Linked DNA regions of Homo sapiens. The protein of the gene in region 3 interacts with the protein of the main gene of each other region in a pairwise test. Each region holds a gene or a part of one and is shown on either strand. Other genes may lie near its edges.

Evidence for each region. The genes of interacting proteins can lie anywhere in the genome.
Region 1: the proteins of LSM3 (region 3) and NACC1 interact in binary tests that used the Homo sapiens proteins (3 or more experiments, as listed by UniProt).
Region 2: the proteins of LSM3 (region 3) and CEP95 interact in binary tests that used the Homo sapiens proteins (3 or more experiments, as listed by UniProt).
Region 4: the proteins of LSM3 (region 3) and LSM12 interact in binary tests that used the Homo sapiens proteins (3 or more experiments, as listed by UniProt).

What each region holds. Positions count from the first base shown.
Region 1 is NC_000019.10:13,123,808-13,128,758, reverse strand, and holds part of NACC1 (nucleus accumbens-associated protein 1), read right to left. Parts: intron 1-4,951. UniProt on the Homo sapiens protein: Functions as a transcriptional repressor. Seems to function as a transcriptional corepressor in neuronal cells through recruitment of HDAC3 and HDAC4. Contributes to tumor progression, and tumor cell proliferation and survival.
Region 2 is NC_000017.11:64,519,521-64,524,471, reverse strand, and holds part of CEP95 (centrosomal protein of 95 kDa), read right to left. Parts: intron 3,071-4,951; coding exon 2,945-3,070; coding exon of another isoform or gene 2,929-2,944; intron 1,771-2,928; coding exon 1,577-1,770; intron 1-1,576.
Region 3 is NC_000003.12:14,184,865-14,189,815, reverse strand, and holds part of LSM3 (U6 snRNA-associated Sm-like protein LSm3), read right to left. Parts: intron 1-4,951. UniProt on the Homo sapiens protein: Plays a role in pre-mRNA splicing as component of the U4/U6-U5 tri-snRNP complex that is involved in spliceosome assembly, and as component of the precatalytic spliceosome (spliceosome B complex).
Region 4 is NC_000017.11:44,059,677-44,064,627, forward strand, and holds part of LSM12 (protein LSM12), read right to left. Parts: intron 4,259-4,951; coding exon 4,125-4,258; intron 1-4,124. UniProt on the Homo sapiens protein: Nicotinic acid adenine dinucleotide phosphate (NAADP) binding protein. Confers NAADP sensitivity to the two pore channel complex (TPCs) by acting as TPC accessory protein necessary for NAADP-evoked Ca(2+) release.

The DNA of each region.
Region 1 (4,951 bases), on a different chromosome or scaffold from region 3:
ACAATGGTGACAAAGTAGCCCTGCCTCTGGAGCTCACAGTCCAGCAGGAGACAGGGCCATTCATCCTTGGTCACACAGATCAATGTGCTACACACTGGGGTGCCTGACCTTGCCCAGAAGGGGTGACACTGGAGCTGAGATCTAGGAAGGGCAGTAGTGGATGGGGAGTGTGGCCCTTCCAGAAAGGGTTTTCACCTCCAGGGGACTGGGCTCAGTCTCAGGGCTCTGCTATGGACAAAGTATGTCCCTCCAAATTCACAGATTGAAACTCTGAGCCCCAATGTGCCTGTATCTGGAGATAAAACCTTTGGGAGCTAATTAAGGTTAATTGAGGTCATAACGGTGGTATTAAGAAGGCAGCTGTCTGCAAGCCATGAAGAGAGCCCTCACCAGAACCTGACCACGCTGGCACTCTCATCTAGACTGCCAGCCCCCAGCACTCTGAAATATAAATGTCTGTTGTTTAAGCCACCCAGTCTGTGATATTTTGTTGTGTGGCAGCTTGAGCTGACTAAGACAGGCCTGAAGCACCATCTATTCACTGATGCCTCCCCCACTGGAGTCTTTGGCCCGGACTTCCCTGTGAATGCCAGACTCGCACACACCCCAGACACCTCCACTCAACAATTTCAGGACCTGGCTCCAGTCCTTCCCAAAACCTGTGAATGCCGTAGCTTCACCAGCTCTGGCCCTCCTCATTCAGATCCTTGGATTCATCTTCAACTCCTTCAAAACCACTTTGTACTACCTTGGCCCCAAGTGACACTGCCTGGGCCCCTACAATGCTTTATTGGGGCCCCTGGCAGTCTGGCCCTGCTTGCTCTCGGACCTACTAGAATGGGAATGGGACAGCCATAGCTCTTCATACTCTCCCTGGTCACATAAAGCCCTTTCTCTACTCTTTTGCTTTTGGAGACAGGGCCTTGCTCTGTCACCCAGGCTGGAGTACAGTGGCACCATCATAGCTCACTTCAGCCTCAAACTCCTGGGCTCAAGCAATCCTCCCACCTCAGCTTCCCAAATAGCTGGGACCACAGGAGCTACATCCAGCTAATTTTTTTTTTTCTTTTTTTTTTTGAGGCAGAGTCTCGCTCTGTCGCCCAGGCTGGAGTGCAGTGGTGGGATCTCGGCTCACTGCAAGAATCGTTCAAGCGATTCTCCTGTCTCAGCCTCCTGAGTAGCTGGGATTAAAGGTAACCACCACCATGCCTGGCTAATTTTTCTATTTTTAGTAGAGATGGGGTTTCACCATGTTGGCCAGGCTGGTCTTGAACTCCTGACCTCAAGTGATCCGCCCACCTCCCAAAGTGCTGGGATTACAGGCGTGAGCCACGGCACCCGGCCCATCCAGTTAACCGAAAAAAAAAAAAAAAAAAAAAAAAAAAAAGTATATGTATATGTATGCTTTTTTTTTTTTTTTTTTTTGGTAGAGACGTGATCTCACTATATTGCCTGGGCTGGTCTCCAACTCCCAGCTGAGTGTTCCTCCTGCCACAGCCTCACAAAACCCTGCGATTATAGGCATGAGCCACTGCGTCTGACCAACAAAGCCCTTCCCGACACTAACTCCCTGGCTTGATTCTCCCTGCTTGACTTATCCTTCTTGGGAGTTCCTATGATTTATTTAGCAAGCTGGCCATTTTTCTTTTTCTAAAAAAAAATTATTTATTTGTGCATTTTTTAGTAATAGAGACGAGGTCTCCCTAATGTTGCCCAGGCTGGTCTCAAACTCCTGGGCTCAAGTGGTCCTCCTGCCTTGGCCTCCCAAAGTGCTCGGACTACAGGTGCGAGCCACCACCCCTGCCAAACTGGGCATTTTTTGGGGCTTCATGTCAGTTTCCCTGGGGCAGGGAGTTTGCCTGTGTAGATCCCTGTTGTGTCCTCTACCCCTAGGACCTGGCCAGGTACACAGTGGGTGCTCACAGTCCTTCGTGGAAAAAATGAACAAAGAATTACTTCCATTCCTCCTAACCTAACTCCCTGTTTTGTTCCACATTAACGTGGCTCAAACAGGAATAGGGCTCAGAAGCATTATCTGTGGCTGGGCAGACAGACGACCTCCTTTGACAGCTGCCAAGGTGGGTAGCCAGCAGTCAGGGGCCTATTGAGACCGCAGTGTTACCTGACGAATTGCTCACACTGCCGGTGGATCCTGCCATCTGCAGGAAGGGGGCTGGCAGGATGATTCCTGGGAGTAGTAACTGTCAGCTCTTAGGGAAGAGAGCTGAGGAATTCCCCAGCCAGCATGGGCCTGTGAGAGACTGTCAAAGGCACAGTCCTTTCCTGATGTCTTTCCAGGGAAGCTGTGACATGGCCGTCGACAGATGCTATGGTCTGAATGTTTGCCTCTTCCCAAAATTCACATGCTAAAGCCTATCTCCAATGTAGTGGTATTAAGAAGTGGGGCTGGCTGGGCACGGTGACTCACGCCTGTAACCCCAGCACTTTGGGAGGCTGAGGAGGGCGGATCACGAGGTCACGAGGTCAGGAGATAGAGACCATCCTGGCTAACATGGTGAAACCCCATCTCTACTAAAAATACAAAAAATTAGCCAGGCACAGTGGTACGTGCCTGTAATCCCAGCTACTCGGGAGGCTGAGGCAGGAGAATCGCTTGAACTCAGGAGGCGAAGGTTGCGGTGAGCCGAGATCGGGCCAATGCACTCCAGCCTGGTGACAGAGCAAGACTCCGTCTAAAAAAAAAAAAAAAGTTAGGCCTTTCAGCCAGGTATGGTGGTTCACGCCTGTAATCTCAGCACTTTGGGAGGCCGAGGTGGGCGGATCACCTGAGGTCAGGAGTTGGAGACTAGCCTGGCCAATATGGTGAAACCCCATCTCTACTAAAAATACAAAAATTAGCTGGGCGCAGTGGTGCACGCCTGTAATCCCAGCTATTAGGTAGGCTGAGGCAGAATTGCTTGAACCTAGGAGGTGGAAGTTGCAGCGAGCCAAGATCACGCCACTGCACTCTAGGCTGGGCAACAGAGCAAGACTCCATCTCAAAATAAAAAAGAAGTTGTTGATCAAAAATTTAAAAAGGGCTGGGTGCAGTGGCTCACGCCTGTAATCCCAGCACTTTGGGAGGCAGAGACAGGCGGATTACCTGAGATCAGGAGTTCGAGATCAGCCTGGGCAACACAGTGAAACCCCGTCTCTACTAAAAATACAAAATTAGCCTGGCATGCTGACACATGCCTGTAATCCCAGCTACTTGGGAGGCTGAGGCAGGAGAATCGCTTGAACCTGGGAGGCGGAGGATGCGGTGAGTCAAGATCGCACCACTGCACTCCAGCCTGGGCAACAAGAGTAAATCTCCGTCTCACCAAAAAAAAAAAAAAAAAAAAAAGTGGGGCCTTCGGGAGTTGATTCAGTCAGGAGGGCTCTGTCCTCATGAATACGAACTGTGCCCGTATAAAAGAGGGGGAGCTTGTTTGTCCTTGCCACCCTGTGCAGATACCTAAAAGGTGCTATCTATGAGAGATGGGCCCTCACTAGACACGGAATCTGCTAGCACCGTGATATGGGACTTCCCACCCTCTACAACTATGAGCAGCTCATCTCTGTTGTTTATCAATGGCCCAGTCTGTTTTGTTTTTTTGAGACAGGGTCTTGCTCTGTCACCCAGGCTGAAGCGTAGTGGTGCAATCTTGGATCACTATAGCGTCAAACTCCTGGGCTCAAGTTATCCTCTCACCTCAGCCTCCTGAGTAGCTGGGACTAGGGATGTGTGCCACCACGCCCGGCTAATTAAAACAATTTTTTGCAAAGACGAGAGACATATGTTCTCAGGACCTCCTGAGGGCTGTGTCACGGGTGAAAAACAAATTAAAATTAAATTTTTTTGTAAAGATGAGGTCTCACTATGTTGCCCAGGCTGGTCTCGAACTCCTGGGCTCAAGCAATCCTCCCATCTCAGCCTCCTAAATGCTGAGGTTAGAGGCATGAGCAATGTGCCTGGCTTCCAGTCTAAGGTATTTTATTACAGCAGCCCAGATGGGCTAAGACCTACAAGCCAGTTAAGGGAGACCAGCAACTCCAAGTGTAACAAGGAACAAAGGCCCCAGAGAGCCCCACAGTCCTTCATGCAGCTCAGCAGGATGTGGCTGGATCCTGGCAGCTACTCAGGTTGCCTGCCTGACCCAGAACCAGAAAGACCCCTCTGTAGGGGCTGAATGTGAAGGCAGTCCAGGAAAACAGTTAGTGAAGAACAAACTGTTCAGTGGGGGGCGGTGACTCCTACCTGTAATCCCAGAACTTCGGGAGGCTGAGGCAGGAAGACGCTTGAAGCCAGGAGTTTGAGACCAGCCTGGGCAATACAGCAAGACCTCATCTTGCATCAGTATTTTTTTTTCTTTTTTGTTGAGACAGTCTTCCTCTGTCGCCCAGGCTGGAGTACAGTGGCGTGATTTCGGCTAACTGCAACCTCCGCCTCCTGGGTTCAAGCAATTCTCGTGCCTCCGCCTCCTGAGTAGCTAGGATTACAGGCACACACCACCATGCCTGGCTAATTTTTGTATTTTTAGTAGAGACTGGGTTTCTCCATGTTGGCCAGGCTGGTCTCAAAACTCCTGGCCTCAAGTGATCCGCCCACCTCAGCCTCCCAAAGAGCTGGGATTACAGGCGTGAGCCACTGCACCTGGCCTGTATTTTTTTTCTTATACACCCACAGATTTAATTCGTTATCTCTTTCCCTGAATGACTATTGTTAAATCCATGGTGGAATAGGATTAGTAACAGTGTCCCCTACTCAAGCCTCACTGACTGGGCCCATACCTGGCCAGGGCTCAGACAGGCTCATTTAACTTACTCTTCTTTACAGTTTCTGAGGAAGAAATGAGCCTGCCTGCCATTTCATGGATGGGAATGAGGCCCAGAGAGGTGAAGCCAGAGGTGGGGAACATGTAGCTGGTGAATGGCAGGCACAGGTTTATACCCAGGCCGTCTGGCTCCC
Region 2 (4,951 bases), on a different chromosome or scaffold from region 3:
CCAGGTGTGGTGGCACGTGTGCCTGTAGTCCCAGCTACTTGGGAGGCTGAGGCAGGAGAATCACTTGCCTGGGAGGTGGAGGTTGCAGTGGGTGCAGACTGCACCACTACACTCCAGCCTGGGCGACACAGCGACACTCTGTCTCAAAAAAAAATAAAACAAACAACCTTTTACTAAATAGCAACTAAAATATAATCATATTTTAATAAAACTTTTAAAATAAAGTATTTCTAGCTCAATGAATTATTTGAAAATAAACACTCCCCTTTAACTGCCACCCAGGTCAAGAAACAGAGTATTACCAACTCAGAAATATCTCTAAAACCCCCACTATGATTCCCCCAAAAGTAAACATTATCTTATGACTCCATTTTAACACCTCTTTTTATCTAATCCCTCTCCTGTTTAGATGCACAGAATGTTGAGAATGTGGTCACCTATTGTTAATAATGCTTATTTCATCTCTGTACTTTTAATGCATTGCTTGAATGTTTAAATAATGAAAATGTATCACTGTTTATATATCTACCCTGTGTACATACCTGCCTGTTGTTTTTCTTATTTTATTTTTTTCTTTTTGAGACAGGGTCTTGCTCTGCTGCCCAGGCTGGAATGCAGTGGTGTGGTCACAGCTCACTGAAGCTCCTGGGCTCAAGTGATCCTCCTGCCTCAGCCTACTAAGTAGCTAAGATCACAGGCATGCACCACCACTCCAGGCTAATTTTCTATTTTTAGCAGAGACAAGGTCTCACTATGTTTCCCAGGGTGGTCTCAAACTCTGGCACTCACATGAGCCTCCCAAAGTGCTGGGATTATGGGTGTGAGCCACCGAACCCAGTCCTGTTCTTTTTAGAAAGATAAGGACAGGATGACTATATAAAAAAGGTTTTTTCTTTTTTTTTTTTGAGATGAAGTCTTACTCTGTCACCCAGGCTGGAGCGCAGTGGCGTGATCTTGGCTCACTGCAATTGAACCAAATAGATCAATATGTTAACAGTGGTTCATGGTGGATAATGGGAATATGCATGGATGGTTATTTTCTTTTCCACTCTGTGTTTTCTAAATTTGAAATTATTAAATTACGGACACAATATGGACTCTGAAGCCAGAATGTCCAAGTTCAAATCCTGACTCTGTAATTGCTGTGTAACCTTGCCCTCTCTACATCAGCTTCCCAACAATAAATAAATATAGTAGCTACTCCAGAGTTGTTATGGGCAGTAAATTATTCAATACCCCTAAAGTATCCAGAACTGCGCCTGGCACAACATAAACATTCACTATGTGTTGGCTCTTATTATTTCCCTTTATATGCATTCGTTTTTCTCCTATCTTCCTAGAACAAGAATGTGCAGGTGTATACAGAGGCAAATTTTAAGGAGTACGATGCTTTGACTAGTGCAATATGCTTGACAATTCTAGCAGACTTCTTTAAATATAGGGGCTTCCTTGACAAAGAATAAAGACTTCACCAATACACATACACACACACGGCCTTCTAATCAATTACCAACACACACACAGACATACATACAAGTGTACTTCTAGCCAACTGAAAGTAAGCTTTTCCACTTACCCCAGAAAATTCCGTATGCTCTCCAGTAGAATTTACGGCTGGGGAGCAGTGACTTGAATGCAAGTATTCTTTTCCTATGGGGCAGGGTGCTCGAGGCTCTGAAGGGTGGTAGGGTGGATGTAAAGGAATAGCTGCTCGGATAGGCTCCCCTAGCTTCCTAGCATTTGGAATCCCACTCACAGAAAGGGTTTCCGCTAGTAAGACAAATTAAAGTGGATATTACGATGCAATTCTAAGAAATAAACCATTTTATATACATACATACATACCTATATAAACATGTTCACATACATTAGAAATATTTTTTAAACTTAAGACAAAGCACATAAAAAAATAATTAAACCAGGGATATAGCCTCAGCACACAGGGATCTAATTAAATTAGGATGTAATTTTTTTTTTTTAATTTTTAAAAAAAGTAGAGATGAGGTCTCGCTATGTTGCCCAGGCTGGTCTCCAACTCCTGGGCTCAAGTGATCCTCCTGCCTCGGCCTCCCAAAGTGCTGGGATTACAAGTGTGAACTACCATGACTGGCCCCGGATGTAATTTTAATGTTATTATCATAAAACTGTTCCCTGAAAGTTACTTTAAAAACTGGAAGCAACTTAAATGGCTTGAAGAATGTTATGTTATGTGAATTATGGTTCGTCCACGTTACAAAACCAGTTAGGCAGTAATATTTTTATGTATTACTACCATATGAAAATTCCAGAGATGATAATAAGAAACAAGAATGATTTTTCCAGGCCGGGTGCGGGAGCTCACGCTTGTAATCTCAGCAATTTGGGAGGCTGAGGCAGGCGGATCACGAGGTCATGAGTTCGAGACCAGCCTGGCCAACATGGTGAAACCCCATCTCTACTAAAAATAAGTTAGCTGGGCGTGGTAGCAAGCGCCTATAATCCCAGCTACTTGGGAGGCTGAGGCAGGAGAATCGCTTGAACCCAGGAGGCGGAGGTTGCAGTGAGCCGAGATCATGCCACTGCACTCCAGCCTGGGCAACAGAGCTAGACTCTGTCTCGAAACAATAAAAAAAGAATGTTTTTCCAGTTACTATACTTTGTTATTTACCAATAATATGAAGACCACCAATAGATGTACTAATGTGTCAGAGACTCTGTCCCATTAAAAAAAAAAGGTAAGTGGTGAGAATTTAGATAATAAAATAGTGGATGCAAAAATATGCAACCAAAGACCATGTTAAGCAGAATTCAGATACCATAATTAATAGCAAACATTTACAAGTAAGATCATGTAAGACCAAAAAGGATCTCATATACAGCAATAAAAGTAAAAAGGCTAATGGCAACAACAATTGCCCCAAGAATGATCATCAGCAGTAAAGAACTAACATCCATTACAACTCACTGTCTTCAACAAAGGATGTCCTACTCTTGGACAAAACACTAGGAGGGTACAACATATCTTCATGTGATTTAGAACTTGGTGAGGCTAAGGCTTTTTTAGACAGCATTTCATTAGGACATTGAGCACCTAGGAAAGAAAATATTAAAGGTAAAATTTTTAACTATCAAAATAGTTTGCTGAACATTATACTAAAAGCCAAGAGTTTTGTACTCAGGAAACAAATATTAAATAATGTTGAACGAAATAATGTTGGTCCAACTGCTCAAAATACCAATTATTATTTTTCTTTTTCAGACAGCATTTCCCTCTTGTCGCCAGGCTGCAGTGCAATGGCGTGATCTCGCTGCACTGCAACCTCCACCTTCCAGGTTCAAGCAATTCTCCTGCCTCAGCCTCCAGAGTAGCTGGGACTACAGGCACCCGCCACCATGCCTGGCTAATTTTTTGTATTGTGACAGGGTTTCACTATGTTGGCCAGGCTGGTCTCGAACTCCTACCTCAGGTGATCCGCCCACCTCAGCCTCCCAAAGTACTGGGATTACAGGCGTGAGCCACTGTGACGGGCCATAATATCAATTATTTTTAATTGCTATCAGAAAGTAAGATGCCATTTTGTAATCCAGAATCATTTATACAATTTAAAAGCAAAGTTTCATACAATGTTTCATTATTTAGCTTTAGAAAAATAGATGCCAGAGTTACGGAAATGCTGGCTGTTTTATGGACATGTCTTGGTATGAATAGACACCAGAGTTAGGGTCTTAGCTAGTACCAGAAACATGGACTCATGGTCCAGGCCAAGCGCAGTGGCTCATACCTGTAATCTCAGTACTTTGGGAGGCCAAGGCAGGCAGATCACTTGAGGTTATTAGTTCAAGACCAGCTTAGCCAATATGGCGAAACCCCATCTCTACTAAAAATACAAAAATCAGCTGGGCATGTGGCACATACTTGTAATCCCAGCCGCTTGAGAGGCTGAGGCAGAGGTTGCAGTGAGCCGAGATTGCGCCACCGCACTCCACCCTGGGTGACAGAGCAAGACCTAGTGTCAAAAAAAAAAAAAAAAAAAGACTATGGTCCATATATTGAAGCTTAAATTAGATGCCTGTGAATGTATATGACAGTTATCTGACACTTTAAATCTCAATATGAAAGGAAGCTGCCATAAGCCCTTTTATCACATCAAACCCAAACACCTTGGCCAGGCATCTCTCTGAATCTTTTTTCCTTTGCCTTAATTGCATTACTCTTAAACACAATTCCCCTCTCTACTTATAATGTTAAAATAAGTAATTCATTTTACAGTAACATCTTTTTTACATAGCACTTGACATCACAGAACCCGTTTCTGCAATCACCATCCCTTCCATTCCCAATCAATCCATCTGATTCTCCTACTTCAAGAAACATTTTTGTAGTATCCACACTTGACTCTGGTCCTTCCGTTTCTGTGCCTATCCCAATGGCAAGCATAGCTTTTTGGTCTACTGGAGGGTGAGTTTGCCAGGAACCAAAAGTAAGGGAGAACATTCCAAGACTTGTGGTCCATATACTGGTTTAGTAATTTATGAAGCCACGGTGGACAGGATGGAGTAGGATGATTGGAGGAGGGCAAGGTTGGAGGCTCAAAATTGGGGCTTGAAAGATATCCGGGTCTACTATGTGCAAGCAATAGGCTGTTGGAAATCTGGCCTGAAGCCTAGAAGAAAAATTGCTACTGCATATACGAACTTATTGGTTCAAACAATGAAAAAAGTGAGTCAACCACCAGTTCAGGAAACTACAATTAAAGAATACCCTGAAAGCGTGACCAGACTATAAGCTGCATCCATAATTCTCTTCCCAGGTTATAAGGAACCGCAAATTACCTAATAACCTTGCATACACTTATTTGCCTTGGACTTATCTGCCCATATGCCTGCGACTTCAGATAAGTGTTCATATTTAATGGGTAGTGGGATATTCTGGAATTTCAAATCCCATGTCCAGTTAGCACTCTATTCTTCT
Region 3 (4,951 bases):
CAAATGGGATCTAATTAAACTAAAGATCTTCTGCACAGCAAAAGAAACTATCATGAGTGAACAGGCAACCTACAGAATGGGAGAAAATTTTTACAATCCATCCATCTGACAAAAGGCTAATATCCAGAATCTACAAAGGACTTAAACACATCTACAAGAAAAAAAACAACCCCATCAAAAAATGGGCAAAGGATATGAAGAGACACTTCTCAAAAGAAGACATTTATGCAGCCAAAAGACATATGAAAAAAAGCTCATCATCACTGTCATTAGAGAAATGCAAATCAAAGCCACAATGAGATACCATCTCATGCCAGTTAGAATGGCGATCATTAAAAAGCCAGGAAACAACAGATGCTGGAGAGGTTGTGGAAAAACTGAAATGCTTTTACACTGTTGGTGGGAGTGAAAATTATTTCAACCATTGTGGAAGACAGTGTGGTGATTCCTCAAGGATCTAGAACTGGAAATACTATTTGACCCAGGAATCCCATTACTGGGCATATACCCAAAGGATTATAAATCATGCTACTATAAAGACACATACATATGTATGTTTATTGCGGCACTATTCACAATAGCAAAGACTTGGAACCAACCCAAATGTGCATCAATGATAGACTGGATTAAGACAATGTGGCACATATACACCATGGAATACTGTGCAGCTATAAAAAAGGAGGAGTTCATGTCCTTTGCAGGGACATGGATGAAGCTGGAAACCATCATTCTCAGCAAAATATCACAAGATCAGAAAACCAAACACCCCATGTTCTCACTCATAAGTGAGAGTTGAACAATGAGAACACATGGGCACAGGGAGGGGAACATCACACACCAGGGCCTGTCGGGGGCTGGGAGGCTAGGGGAGGGATAACATTAGGAGAAATAATGTAGGTGACGGGTTGATGGGTGCAGCAAACCACCAGGGCACGTGTATACCTTTGTAACAAAACTGCACGTTATGCACATGTAATCCAGAACTTAAAGTATAATTAAAAAAAAAGATAAAGATAAAATTATTTACAGCAGAATAGGTTTTACTAGCAAAATATTGGAAATGGCTATCTGTCCATCAACAGGAAAACAGTTAAATTATGGTACATCTACACAGTGAAGTACCATAAAGCTAAAAACGAAAGCACAAGGAAGCTATGTATGAAAGGGAAAGAGCACTGTGATAAAAAAACAGGGGAAGGGAGAATAACTAACACTCATTAGCATATGCATAAAGACACGAGAAGATTCTCAAGAAACCAGTAATAGTGCTTATGTCTGGGGGTGGGGTGTAAAGATGATGAACAGAGGCTGGAGTGGAAGACATTTTACTGCACTGTGTTCCTTTCTGCATTTTGTAATTTTAAGACTGTGTGAGTCTAGTATCTATTCAAAAAGTTAAATTAAAATGGAAGCAATTTAAAATGAGTAAGAAAAGAAATATGTGTTAAGTACTATACGGTGATATGGACCATATGGTCTCAGCATGGACCATAAAGAGTTAGTTATGTATGAGGGAGCAGGTCTAGAGCTGCTCTAATATGAGTGCCACTAGTCACAGGTGGCTCATTAAATTAAAATTAAATAAAATTAAATGTGCAGTTCCTTAATCACACCAGCATCCATTTGAAGTGCCAAATAGCCACATGTGGCTCATAGCTCCTGTAATGACAGCATAGATAGAAATTTTCACTGCTGCAGACAGTTCTATTATTACAGTGCTAATCTACAGAAAGGTCTAGAAGAGCCATCTGATGCTGTAGAAGGCCTTCGGGCAAGCAGAGGGAGCAGAGGGCTTAGTTACAAAAGGGCACAACGTCCCCAAGAGAAACTGTCTGGTGAGCCAAACTACGAGGTGTTTGGTGAAGGAAGGTAGTACACATGATGGACAGCCGAAAAAGTAGTCTGGGTCAAATAACACAGACTGTTCACAATCTGTAAAATGGAAACTCCAATTATGGAGGACCAAGAATCAGAAGAGTAAGACTGACTGCTTTCCACCTTCCCATTTATAAGTCAGCAGCCAAATTAATTATTTAGAAGTCAATTATGTAAGTTATAGGGGGAAAAAAACCCAACAACCTGATGGTTTATGGGTCCCCCATACTGTTTTGGTGGTAAAACGTTGATGTTCATTAGTTATTTCAATAGACGAGAGAGAGAGCGAAATGTAAAATGGGCCAAGGTAAGAAACCATTTAGTCTGGTTTCCCATCTTGGAGAGGAGTAACAAGAGCGCACAGGAGAGTGAAGTAGTTGTTCTCCATGGCACTGAACCAGATGCAGACACTCTCTATAATATCACTGTCTTTGCTTTCTATGTCTATAGTTAATACACATTTACACACTAAAGTATTCTCAGTCATCCAAAGATTCAATTTTAAATGTTTTACCCAATACATCATGGCAATGTGAAAAAGAACTCATTAACTAAATAGACTTTGCTTACTGTTCTCAGCTGCAACTCTAGGCGCAAGAGAGGCCACATGCACGCAGCACGCAGCGTTCAGGAGCTAACCAGCCCCAGTAGCCTTTCAAGGCAGCAATTAATCTTAATGGAGGTCAGTAACTACTGAGACTCTGTTACAGACACCCCACCCAGAGAAATGCACATGTGCACAGACACATAGCACCTTCAAACAGTGTCAGGAGGAACCGCACTTGGAGCAGACTACTAGGGATGACACAGGTGGACCCTGCTGTTAGTTCACTGCAAACATGGAGTAAGTGGCAGTGTTCCCTTCTCTGTAATAGACACCACAGTTGAAGAGTCATTTCTGTCACAAGCAGAATTCAAGACAAGAGCATTAAAATGCTTATGAAGAGTCTACTCTCATGGTAAAATTCTTATGTTAATGATGTTACATGAATAAAGCAGAATATTAAAGCCACATATTCCATATTTTATCACATTTAAGGTATCATTTGTAAGCTTAGTTGAGCTGAAAAAGGATAAATTTTGCCAATTAAACTATGACACAATTCTTTTTTTATCACATCACCTGTAAGATGCAATCAGATTTTTAAGATGCTAAAATTTAAGAAAAAGTGCATCTTAGTACTTATGATTGTGTCCATGTTAAGAAAACAATAACCACTAAACAATAGTTAATAAATGAAATTCCTAAAGGGGAAAAAATGCAGATTTTAAAAAATGCTATTCTTTCTTGGAGAAATAAGCCAGCAAAAATACATAAATAAATAAGTAAAAATTTTAAAAAAAGAAAAAAATGCTAAATGTTTACACTCAGAAGGAGAAAGAACACTAGCAAAGGAGTCAGGTGTGGTCAGAGAGAGGAGGAAAGCCAGGATAAAGCAGAACTACAAAATCCAGTGAAGGCTAACAGTTTAACAGTGACAACGTGCCTGTCACTATCTGAAGGCTTTTCATGTAGCCCTCAATGAATCCTCCACAGTTGTATGAAGTGGGTCCTATCATTACTCCCATTTTACAGACAAGGAAACATATCCACAGACAGGTTAGGTGAGCTGGCTCAATTAAAAAGGTGGTAAGCAAGGGAGTCAAAATTTGAATCCATGTAGTCTTGTACTCTGAGCCCACATTTTAACCACTATGCCCTGGCAGGGTCAGAAACTGTCTTTCCAAATCTTAAAGACCTTTCTTTCTGCTACGGCCTGGCATAGTGGCTCCCACCTGTAATTCCAGCACTTTGGGAGGCCAGGAGTTCGAGACCAGCCTGGCCAACATGGTGAAACCTGTCTTTACTAAAAACACAAAAATTAGCTGGGCGTGGTGGCACATGCCTGTAATCCCAGCTACTTTGGAGGCTGAGGCACGAGAATTGCTTGAACCTGGGAGGCGGAGGCTGCAGTGAGCTGAGACTGACATTGCACTCCAGCCTGGGTGACACAGTCAGACTGTCTTTAAAAAAAAAAAAAGACCTTTCTGACAAGATCACTGGTGATAACTAATAAATGTGATTTTTTTTAAACACTGAAGAAATAAAATGAATCTGCATAGCCCAGTGAACTACTATTTTCTAAAGAACCAGTGCCTGATGTAACCAAATCATGCATGAGTAAGAGATCCATTTGAGGTGCAAGGCAGATTAATGAATTTTCACCTAACAAGAGTACGAAAAGTTTACTGTTACCGTTTCAGATTCCAGATGGCAAATAATCTTTGACTGACTACCACTTGTTCAGTTTGGGTGTAGTATCAAAGGTAGAACATTCACAAAACAAACTCCTTCCTTTCCAACTACCTATCTGTGTGGTCAGATTTGCTTCAATTACAACAACAACTCATGATAGATTTAACGCAGAAAAAAGATATGAGAATCTTCTAGCTGTTATCGATTAAGCGGGGCATTAAAGAGATTTGCAAAAATGTAAAACAAAGACATTCCTCATTAAAATTTTGTTTTAGAAAATAGTTATTGTTCATAAAAATGTTACTTACAGTAACACGTGATAGGTTTTTTTTTGTTTTGTTTTGTTTTGTTTTGAGACAGAGTCTTACTCTGTCCCCCAGGCTGGAGTACAGTAGCACGATCTCAGCTTACCGCAACCTCTACCTCCCAGGTTCAAGTGATTCTCCTGCCTCAGCCTCCCGAGTAGCTGGGATTGCCAGTGCCTGCCGCCACGGCCGGCTAATATTTTGTATTTTTAGTAGAGACAGGGTTTTGCCATGTTGGCCAGGGTGGTCTCGAACTCCTGACCTCAGGTGATCCACCCGCTTTGGCCTCCCAAAGTGGTGGGATTGCAGGCATGAGCCACTGCACCCAGCCTTTTTTTTTTTGAGACAGCGTTTCACTCTTGTTGACAAGGCTGGAGGGCAATGGCACAATCTCAGCTCACTGCAACCTCCGCCTCCAAGATTCAAGCAGTTCTCCTGCCTCAGCCTCCCAAGTAGCTGGGATTATAGATATATGCCACCACACCCAGCTAATTTTTTGTATTTTTAGCAGAGACAGGGCTTCACCATATTGGTC
Region 4 (4,951 bases), on a different chromosome or scaffold from region 3:
GCCAATTTCCAAGAAGTTGCTAGTTTATACCTTCCCTAGTTGAGCTATTATTAAGTATTTCCTGTATAAGCCCTTCTCTTCCATTTCCTGCTAGGTCAGAGTCAACAAATATCCGGTTTTTATCAACAGGTTTAATTAAGCAGATCACTTACTATGTCAGCAAGATGGGCCAATATGTGATGATACCTTTGACTAAAGTTAGAGTAGGCCGGGTGTGGTGGCTCAAGCCTGTAATCCCAGCACTTTGGGAGGCCGAGGCGGGCGGATCACAAGGTCAGGAGATCGAGACCATCCTGGCCAACATGGTGAAACCCCGTCTCTACTAAAAATACAAAAAAATTAGCCGGACATGGTGGCGGGCGCCTGTAGTCCCAGCTACTCGGGAGGCTGAGGCAGGAGAATGGCATGAACCCGGGAGGTGGAGCTTGCAGTGAGCCGAGATGGCGCCACTGCACTCCAGCCTGGGCGACAGAGCAAGACTTCGTCTCAAAAAATAAATAAATAAAATAAAATAAATAGAGTAGGCTAGTGCTTCTCCAGACTGCAAGCAACTGAAACTTCAACAGTTTTCTTCCAGACATCCCAGAGTACATTAGTTCCCTTCCATATGCTTAAATGATCCTCCATCTTAAGAAAAACTCAAGTCCGTGATCTTAAAAATGAGACTAACTTTTCACGTCATTCATGCAACATGTTAATAGCTGCCCGAAATAGCTGTTTTCAGCAGTAGCCCAAAAGGCTCTCTCTAATTCTAAGTCAATCTCCAAAAAGGAATCGCAAAGCATCCTAAAAGGTTGATTTCAAGGGAAAGCCAATATAGCTTACTCATAAACATCTCTGCAAACGGAAGAATGAATAAACGAAATCCAAAGATAACCCTCCAACCTAATTTTAGTTTTTAGTTTCTGACTCCTCTTCCCAGCAAACCTCTTTCAAGATTTGGCAAGCAGGCCACAGAGTAAGAAAAGTAAAGATTTCTGGTGTTCCCCAAGCTATTACTTCCTGCTGCTTTCCTCAAAAACTGGGTAATCAGCTAGTTTACAACAATGCTAGTAAACAAGGAAAACCCTAAAGGCAAAGATAATCCACAAACTAACCAAGAGCTATATCTACCTGAGGTCAAACATAAGAAGAGAACTGCTTCTTAACAGCTCCTGCTTAACAGTCCCATCCACACTACCCCACCCCCTCTAAATGGTGGCACTCATTGGTCACAAGAGCCAACTTTCTAACTTCAGAAAATCACCTCTCTTTCAGATCTTTACTACTCACTAAAGATCTAGTGACAGACTTATCATACCCTATAAACACCAAAAAATAACTCAGAGCCTATTTGGTTCTTTAATACACTAGGAATAATGCTGGGCACAGTGGCTCACGCCTGTAATTCCAGCACTTTGGGAGGCTGAGGCGGGCGGATCACCTGAGGTCGGGAGTTCGAGACCAGCCTGACCAACACGGAGAAACCCCGTCTCTACTAAAAATACAAAATTAGCTGGGTGTGGCTGTGCATGCCTGTAATCCCAGCTACTCAGGAGGCTGAGGCAGGAGAATCACTTGAACCCGGGAGGCGGAGGTTGCGGTGAGCCGAGGTTGCACCATTGCACTCCAGCCTGGGCAACAAGAGCGAAACTCCATCTCAAAAAAAAAAAAAAAAAACACCAAGGAATAAATTATTTAACAAGTCTTAAAATTTCATGAGCTTATAGAAGACACTCAAAGAGCTCCTATACTCTGGTAGAAGGTATATTACTAAGCCAAGGTTTCAAAAACCTATAAGCTTCAAAGAATGGGACATCCCATACAAGACAACACCCATATGAACTCAATAGCCTTCCAAATCTGTCCCTGGCCATCACTAAAAAATGTGTGGCATTTCCCTAGAATCTGACAAGATAGGAACTCCAGATCTGAGGTAACGACATTCACTAGCCTCAGCATCAGTTACCCTCTATTATTTTAGTTGCCTAAGTGTTTCCTTGCTTTGCTGAACTGTACAGAACACACCACATTCCCAAGAGAGGCAAAGTAATACACATTATTGCAAGATTCCTCTAGAGGGAAAAACTTCCACCACATTAATTCAAGAGACTTAATGAAAAGCACCTGCTACTAAAATTGGAGGCATCTTATTCATCCAACAAATATTTATTAAATACTCTGTGCAAGGCTCTGTATATTCAATAGTAAATAAAATAGGTATGGTCCCCATCCCTGCAGAATAAAGTTTAGTGAGACAGACACTAGACAAGTAAACAACTATGGCCAGGAGCGGTGGCTCACGCCTGTAATCCCAGCACTTTGGGAGGCCGAGGCGGGCGGATCACAAAGTCAGGAGATCGAGACCGTCCTGGCTAACACAGTGAAACCCCGTCTCTACTAAAAATACAAAAAAGTTAGCCGGGCGTGGTGTCGGGCGCCTGTAGTCCCAGCTACTAGGAAGGCTGAGGCAGGAGAATGGCATGAACCCGGGAGGCGGAGCTTGCAGTGAGCTGAGATGGCGCCACTGCACTCCAGCCTGGGCGACAAAGCGAGACTCCGTCTCAAAAAAAAAAAAAAAAAAAAAAGCTATGAATAGGGTAACCTAATCTATACCTGTTGTCCCTGTGTAAAATAAAAGCATTCCCCTTTACTCTCAAAAATGTCCCAGGTTGGACTACAAATGATATGGTCACCTTAACTGTGAAGGACAAGGTACTATGAGAGAGAATAATGCAGGCAAATTACTTCAGCCTGGGTGATCAGAGAAGACTTCTTGGAAGACGTGCCATTTAACTGAGTGCTGATGGGTGGTAAGGCTCCAGTCATTCTGGAAGGAAAAATGTTCCAAGTACAGGGGACAGCACAGGCTATGACAGGGCTTGAGGCATTATTATGATCAACTTCAATTTTGACTAAATAAACGGAATTGTCAAAAAAGTGACTTAGGGCCGGGCATGGTGGCTGACACCTGTAATCCCAGCACTTTGGGAGGCTGAGGCAGGCAGATCACTTGAGGTCAGAAGTTCAAGATCAGCCTGGCCAGCATGGTGAAACCCCATCTCTACTAATAATACAAAAATTGAGCCAGGAGCAGTGGCTCACACCTATAATCTTACCACTTTGGGAGGCCGAGGCAAGCAGACTGCCTGAGCTCAGGAGTTCAAGACCAGCCTGGGCAACAGAATGAAACCCCGTCTCTACTAAAATAAAACAAATTAGCCGGGTGTGACAGTGTGTGCCTGTCTCCAAAAAAAAAAAAAATTTGGCCAGGCGTCGTGGCACACACCTGTAGTCCCAACTACTCCAGAGGCTGAGGCACGAGAATCACTTAACCTGGGAGGCGGAGGTTACAGTGAGCCGAGATCGCGTCACTGCACTCCAGCCTGGGCGACACAGAGAGACTCTGTCTCAAAAAAAACGCCGGGCGCAGTGGCTCCAATAAAAAGAAAGACTTGGGCAGGCATGGTGACGCATGCATGTAATCCCAGCTACTCAGAAGGCCGAGGCAGGAGGGTCACTTGAGCCCAGGCGTTCAAGTTCAACCTGGGCAACAAAGCAAGACCCTGTCTCACACATACACACACAAAAGTGACTTGGGGGTTCCCAGAGATCAACTTTTATGTGCAAGATTAAAATATGCTAAGCATGTAACTGTTAGAACTCAAAATTCAAACATAAAGACAAAAAAGAACCTTTAAGACAGTGGCTTTCAAACTTTTCTAAGTCATGAAACCCTCCGAGAATCTGAAAAACACTTTAGATCTTCAAGCAGAAAATGCATATATTCACGTATGCACACATCCACATATACACAATTTGAAGACATTCATAGGTAACGCCACCACCCAAACCCCAGCAGCACTATTAGTTCATCATGAACTCCAAGATTTAAAAAGTCCTCTTTCATAAAGGCAGAAGCAAGCTCTCAACTTATTTGGGAGTTAAGCTACTTCTTAAGATCTACTGATAACATCCAGGAATAAAGAGAAAAACTAAACCTACATTTTTTAAAAAGATATCAGAACAAACAATTTTAAGTCAATTTTAAAAAATAAAAAATAGACAACAATGTATCACTAAGACTCAATGAGACTCATCTTTCCCACCATTTTAGAGAGCCAGATCTGCCCTTGAGTCCTTACCTTACTAACATTGAGTGAAGCTAGGGGAGGAGGGGTTTCTGTTCGGTCATTAATTATTTCCACTTCTGAAACATACTGTAAGTTTATGAGCAAGATGTCTGCATGGTTGGGCTTTCCACTGGAAGAGGGACATTCTGGTGAGAAAAAAAAAAGTTAAGGAAAAATAGGACAAGCAGAGGCACTGACACATCCCAAAAGGGGCATAGAAAACACGATTCACACAAGGCTTGTAAAAGGCAGGCCAGGAGCATGAGGGCCTTATAAGAATCACGGTTCTCCTCAGGAAATCTCTGCCTGTCACCTTCCTCCTGCCCAAATCCTTGGAAGCTTCCAAAGGAGTTCTGTCACTTTCTCTCTACTGGCTTTATGGAGAGGCATAATGCAGATTTAATGCGTTTGTCTTGAACCTATGAGCCAGACAAAAGAGCTAGACCTTTCTGTTCTTCGTATAATACTCTCTGTGTCTGCACAGTATTCTTTTTACTCTTTCAGATGTGAGCTTTCCCATTTTGCAGAGGAGAAAACTACACACTGGAAAGGAAATTCACCCAAGGTGACCCAGCCAGTTAATCCATTCATTCATTCACAAACTCATTCTCCAACCATTTAAGAGCCTACTGTATGTCAAGTAAAAGTTGAGTAATTCAGCCAGGCTCACGTGATGGCTCACGCCTGTAATCTCAACACTTTGGGAGGCTGAGGCGGGCAGATTACTTGAGGTCAGGAGTTCAAGACCAGCCTGGCCAAAGTGGCAAAACCCCGTCACTACCAAAAAAAAAAAAATTAGCCGGGTGTGGTGGCACATGCCTGTAATCCCAGCTACTCTG